2 separate regions of the Homo sapiens genome follow, and region 2 is reported to be linked to region 1. The links are microRNA targets in miRTarBase. Many come from high-throughput screens and were not tested one by one. Region 1 holds a microRNA gene; the other region holds the end of a gene's coding sequence.

The links. The annotated mature microRNA hsa-miR-4300 reads UGGGAGCUGGACUACUUC and lies in region 1 at 2,498-2,515, opposite strand. An mRNA with a match to its seed (bases 2 to 7 or 8) in the 3' UTR can be bound and repressed. Matches are read on the target gene's strand: a 7mer-m8 pairs with bases 2 to 8, a 7mer-A1 pairs with bases 2 to 7 and ends in A, and an 8mer does both.
Region 2: the mRNA of IL5RA is a reported target of hsa-miR-4300. Seed matches in the 3' UTR shown: 7mer-m8 at 2,819-2,825.

The regions. Positions count from the first base shown.
Region 1 is chr11:81,888,254-81,891,672 of GRCh38, forward strand. It overlaps MIR4300 (microRNA 4300), which reads right to left and starts at 2,583; the gene lies at 2,488-2,583. All of the region lies in intron 6 of MIR4300HG (MIR4300 host gene), which reads right to left.
Region 2 is chr3:3,067,295-3,070,713 of GRCh38, reverse strand. It overlaps IL5RA (interleukin 5 receptor subunit alpha), which reads left to right. Exons shown (of 12, transcript NM_175726.4): 12 at 403-3,419. The coding sequence ends at 489. Among named protein-coding and RNA genes, the nearest start is that of CNTN4-AS1, 7.9 kb to the right of the region's middle.

The DNA.
Region 1 (3,419 bases):
CAATATCTACAGTGGAGTAAGTATTGATGGGAGTAGGTTATGCTGTACTCAGGGCTTAGCCTCAAGCAAGATTGGAGTGAAATTTGCAAGCAAACAACCCCATTCTGGACTTGTGAAACCGGCCCAATTGTCCCGTAAAGCTGATGTTGTTTCTTTGAATAAGCATAGAAATTGATCCTCTCAGTCTTAAAACTTGAGAAAGTTTCCTTTGTCTTACCTGAGTTCCTTTCTCAGGGAACCAACCATCAGGTCTCTCAGATAATATCACAGAGCAGAAACACAGCAGGTCACTGCTGTTGGACAGTGAGACATGAAACTCCTCAACTGTCATGATTGCATAACCAACCATCTGCTTCCTGTTGACCAACTCCTCTTCCTTACCCTTTTCTAATTCCTGTTTTCCGACTCATGGTTACATTTTTTCCTTGCTATACAAATCCCTAACTTTAGTTGGTCAGGGAGATGGATTTGAGACTGATCTCCCATCTCCTTTCTTGCAGCACCCAATTAAAGCCTTCTTCCTTCCAATACTCATTGTCACAGTGATTGGCTTTCTGTTTGGCAAGTAGCAGAACTTAGATCAAACTCCTGGTGTTTTGGTAACACTTACAACGTCCGTCCTCTTTCTTATCCATATCCAGGCTTAAGTGTTCAACACAGTCATGGTAATGATTTGACCACCACCTCTAAAATACCTAAAATGCCCTTATTTTCAGGTGATCTAAAAGGATGATAAAGACTGGAGGTTGCACAAATGTTCTGCAAACAGCTGGCACTAAAATACAAGAAGGGGCATCTTGTAGATTTACTCATTCTTAGGACTCACAGGTGACACAAAGTCTTCTCAGGCTTCAGGACGTACAGCGAACTGTAAAAAACTAGCTGTTGACACCCTTTGTTTCCTAGTTAAAAGAGCTAAGCATCTCATCTCCAAACTTTGGATATGGTAATACATCAGGGTACACTTCCAGTGAAATTGCCATAGATTTTACAATTATCTGCTAGCACAGGTGATATACTTTCAGCTTTCCTATTTGATATATAAATCAAAGATCTAGCTCAACTTGGATATCAAAGACCCAATTTAACCTTTCAAATATAACACATGGGCCTATTCACCCACCTAATCCATCTCTCAACTTATTTCTATGGAAATAGCCAAAGAATTATAAGTACCAAGGACAATTTGAATTTACTTGAGAAATGATAGTTTATTCAATAAATGGTGCTATGACAGTTGGTTAACCAGTATTCAAATAAAAAGCATTTAATCCCTACCTCATACCATAAAACAACAAATTCCAAATAAACTTAAAATAAGATCATTTAATAGAAGTTTAAAGAAAAGTTAATATGTATTAATGTAGCCTAAATGAAAGCTTTTCTAGGCTTTTAAGGAAAAGAAAAAATTATAAATAAAAATTGAAAAGTAAATTATGAAAAGAATATAAGGGTGAGCCAAAAATAACATAAGTAAATTTTAAGCCAAATACTAGCTTAAACCAACCTAATAACCAACCTATAACAATAACACATACACACACACACACACACACACACACACACACACACACTGAGAGAGAGAGCGAGAGAGAGAAATGTTTCCTAATATATGACAAAACTGAATATCTGCTAACATAAACAAAAATATGTCCCCAATAAAAGCATATAAGACAGCAAGAAAAGTTGAGCAAAGATAAAAAAAATACAAACCGTCAATAAGTACATTAAGATGCCCAAATCTATTGCTACTAAACGAGGGCAATTTAAAGCAGCACTGAAAATATTTTTATTTAACATATTAACATGACATTAAGTGGAATAAACGCAGCATAAAAGTGAAACTACTCTGTGTTATTATATTTTTAAAATGTTAAGATTATGATCTCAAAGTAATAATAATAATGGTCATTTAAAATTTTAACACAGTTTTGCATTTTTAAATTAAAAGGTATTTTAATAATAAAGCATATGTTATAATACAAGTTTTCATACAGGTCATAATCTGTTTTCACAAGACAAACTGCATGATTTTTGGTGATCTTGACAGTCACTAAAACTCAGATCCATATCAAATTGATAATTTGATAAGCCACTAATTAGCACATGCTCTGTGTAGGGCCCTGAGGTAAGAAAAGCCTTAGTCTACCTGTACACAGAGCTGATGTTTTCTGTCACAGAATATTGAGGTATTTTATGTATCATCACAATTTTAATATATTATCTCATTTAATAAATCAACAGCTCTGCTAGGAAGGTGTTATTGACAGCACCATATAGAAGATAACTAGAAATGAAATGTACTTCACTTACAGAAACCCAAGGGAAATGAGTAGACTAAGTCTTTGGCACTACCTCTAGCTAGAAAATGCTTTTATTTGGCTTCCAACAGCTTACTTACTAGTCCTGAGCCCCTCTGGGTGAATTTACGTCTAGTATTTATGTTTGAGCCAGGTGGTTATCTTTAAGTTACATTAGCATAGGCCATATTGGTTCAGAAGTAGTCCAGCTCCCACTGCTTTGAAAAAAGGTTTTTGATCACCTCATGTCTCTGCTGATTTAGCTGGCCCTCTTCTAAACTCATAGAAAACACTGGGGTTTTTTTTTTGTACCCCAGCATATATGACATCATCTTACTATTTTTGGAATATTTTGTGGGGTTTTTGTATTAATAAAATTTACTTAATTGTAATTGTATAGAATGTAATTTGTGACCTGGTTGTTGAACAAACTTCTAACAAAATTTCCTGAAATTTTAAAAAGCAGCTCTGATGAGTTAGTACAAAATCAGCTCTATCACAAAACTTTGTAACTCATATAACCAAAAGCTCTTTAGGGTTCCCTCAATTATTATTTTTAGTTACATTTTTGAAAGCGATATATAGTATTTGTACACATTTATGGAGTACATGTGATATTCTGATACATGCATGGAATGTGTAATGATCAAGTCAGGTATTCAGGATATCCATAATCTCAAACATTTATTATTTCTTTACATTCAAAACATTTCAAATCTTCTCTTCTACTTTAAAACAGAATATATATTGCTGTTAACTGTAGTCATTCTATTGTTCTATCAAACACTAGAACTGCTTCTTCTATCTAACTCTACATAAATAACCATTAACCAACCTCTCTGCATACTTCACTTTCTACATTCTTTCCGTTCTTTGATAAGTATCGTTCTATTCTTTCTCATTTGTGTGTGTGCTTTACCACTAAGTTTTAAAGTACCACACTTTAATGTGTTTTCATGATGGTAGGAGTCACCCTTTTATTTTCAGATGTATGACTCTCTTGAGCATTGTTTTGTGGGGCCAGTCTAGAGGTGATAAATTCTTTCAATTTTTCCTAGTCTTGAAAAGATTCCATTTCTTCATGATTTTTGAAAGGTAGTTTTTCTGGGTATGGTATTC
Region 2 (3,419 bases), not on the chromosome of region 1:
CTACTTGGGAGGCTGAGGCAGGAGAATCACTTGAACCTGGGAGGTGGAGGTTGCAGTGAGCCGACATCATGCCACTGTACTCCAGCCAGGGTGACAAGAGTGAGACTCTGTCTAAAAAAAAAAAAAAAAAAAAAAAAAGATGTGTATCCATATGACTTCAAGTAAGTCTAAAGAAAACATTATGCCTAGAAAGAAAGGCTTAGGAGAAGCAGTGGGCTGTGTTTGGGAGATAGATGTATGGCTAGGTATTTTCTTCTTCTTCCCACTTTATTTTTCACATCTTCTTTGTGAACATTTACTATTTTTATTTAAAAAATAATAGACTTAAAGCCAATTGTAAAGATTTCAAAGAACCCAAAAGTTCTCTAAAAGACATCTAAGGAAAGATGATTTGTTTTGCAGAAAGCTGGGTCCAGTGAGACGGAAATTGAAGTCATCTGTTATATAGAGAAGCCTGGAGTTGAGACCCTGGAGGATTCTGTGTTTTGACTGTCACTTTGGCATCCTCTGATGAACTCACACATGCCTCAGTGCCTCAGTGAAAAGAACAGGGATGCTGGCTCTTGGCTAAGAGGTGTTCAGAATTTAGGCAACACTCAATTTACCTGCGAAGCAATACACCCAGACACACCAGTCTTGTATCTCTTAAAAGTATGGATGCTTCATCCAAATCGCCTCACCTACAGCAGGGAAGTTGACTCATCCAAGCATTTTGCCATGTTTTTTCTCCCCATGCCGTACAGGGTAGCACCTCCTCACCTGCCAATCTTTGCAATTTGCTTGACTCACCTCAGACTTTTCATTCACAACAGACAGCTTTTAAGGCTAACGTCCAGCTGTATTTACTTCTGGCTGTGCCCGTTTGGCTGTTTAAGCTGCCAATTGTAGCACTCAGCTACCATCTGAGGAAGAAAGCATTTTGCATCAGCCTGGAGTGAACCATGAACTTGGATTCAAGACTGTCTTTTCTATAGCAAGTGAGAGCCACAAATTCCTCACCCCCCTACATTCTAGAATGATCTTTTTCTAGGTAGATTGTGTATGTGTGTGTATGAGAGAGAGAGAGAGAGAGAGAGAGAGAGAAATTATCTCAAGCTCCAGAGGCCTGATCCAGGATACATCATTTGAAACCAACTAATTTAAAAGCATAATAGAGCTAATATATCACCCCATATCAAAAGAGACGACAGATTTTGTTCAAATATTATATTCTTGAAGGAAGCCTTAATATTCTGGAAATGTGCTGAGGAAGTCATTGAGCATAATTCAATCATGAAAGGGACCACTGAATCAAGAATGAACTTTCTGAAGAGATGTTTGCTGCCAAAGACTTCAGAACAACTTGTTGGTCAAGTAATGCCAGATCAATCCTAGTCTCTCAAGTTTGGAAAAGTTTCTACAAGGCCATTCCATCAAATATCCCAATATACACAGAAATTCTTCTTCCTAACATCTTCATATATGAGTCTGCATCCAGATTGGAGGCCTTTGTGGTGGGTGGTGGACTGCAGGTGGAACCAAGCACAGGTGTGCCCTGGGCAGAGGTGGGCAAGAGGAAGGAACCCAAACAGTGCTGATTCCACATGGCCCTTGGTCAAGAAGCTGAAGGCCTAGAAAGGAGGTAACAGTGCCCAGAATCCCCACCTGGCACACTCTTTAAATGCTTTCTGGAGGTGTTTTAGTCAGTTTTGATCCATCGGTGGGGACACACTGACTACCATATATTTCCAGGTTTGTTTGTTTTCTTAACTAACCTGTAATTATCCACTGTAACTAGCAGAGGGTTGAACCCTGGGTAATAGGCACAGAAACATCTTGAATCTTGACAAGCCTGCACTGTCTTATAGTAATCTGTATTACTGTCCCATTTTATAGTTGCAGTTACTAAGGTTCAGAGAAGTTGATAGGAAATGGCATAGTGAGGAGTTGAATACCAGGCTCAGGTAAAAGTGACCCCAGAAATGTGCAGAGGAGTGTCAGGGAAAGCTGAGGCCTGCTTAGGGGTGTGGCTGAGAAGGCAACACCCATGGAGGTGCTGCAATAGTTGGCAAAATGTTTAAAATGTTTGGTCACTCAAATGATTCATAATCTCAAACCTGTTTTTGTTTTTTTTTTTTTTTTTTTTTGTGGGGTGGGTGGTGGAGACAGTCTTGTTCTGTCTCCCAGGCTAGAGTGTAGTGATGTGATCTTAGCTCACTACAACCTCCCTGTCCTGGGCTCAAGCCATCCTCCTCCCTCACCCTCCCAAGTAGCTGGGACTACAGGTGCATAACACCATTCCCAGCTCTTTTTTGTATTTTTTTTTGTAAAGCTGGGGTTTTGCCATGCTGTCTAGGTTCATCTCGAACTCCTGGGCTCAAGCGATACACCGGCCTCAGCCTTCCAAAGTACTGGGATTACAGGCATGAACCACCATTCCTGGCCAGGAAACTGTATTTGTAATGAACACCTTAGGTCAGAATCAGAGGCGCCTGGAGGGCTCCTTAAGACACAGAGGAGTGGGCTCCATTCTTAGAGTCTCTAACTGAATAGGTCTGGGTGAGGTCTGAAAAGCTGCGTTTCTAACAAGTTCTCAGGTGATGCTCATGCTGCTGGTCTCCAGGACACACTCGGAGAACTGCTGCTCCAGGAGAGTCTTATGAATACCAAAATTTGAAAATCAGCCGCTGAAGGAAGATGTGACAGAAAAGTCCTGTCCCCAGAAAACTGTCCTTTTGGGGCGGCTTGGAGCACCCTGTCTGATCTCTTTCAAACCACAACCCAGACAGTTGGCATTGTGGAAACTGCCTCTGCTTAGGAGGCAGGAACAGAAGCAGGGAGCTCCCCCTCCACAAATGTGGCCAGCTCTTCAGTGCTTGGTGTGGTGCCCACTTCAGACTCCTCCCTCCACTCAGCAGCCATAGATCACCTGGGCTCTGTGGAGCTCCTTGCCACACTTCCCTGAGCTGGTACCGTTATCTGGCCCTTGGTATATGTGTTTCAGGAGCAACACAAAGTAGCCCATTGGCCTCCTTGGTGGATTGGGAACTCCTTCCTCCCTTCTTGCCCTGTGCAACTCATAGTCATTCTTTGGGAACCCGTAACCATCATCACTTCCTCCATGAAGCCTTCAAAAGCAGAGTTGGTTGATCCCGCCTCTGGATTCTCATTCTGGGCCTCATACCCGTGTTAGAGCTACTGCATTGTAGAATATACCATTAACAGCTGGGAGGCCTCCCCTCTAGACTGCGGCTTCCAGGAGGATGGAGCTTGTGTGAAATACGTCTTTTTATCTGCAGTGTCTAGGACAGTATCTGACTTAAGAAAATATAAATGTTTCTTAAACCCTCTGTCAGCCCTGATACGGCACCTTGTATATAGGTTAGACTGAACAGTATTTGGCAGAGATCCTCAAGGCCTACAATAATGACAGGGGGAGG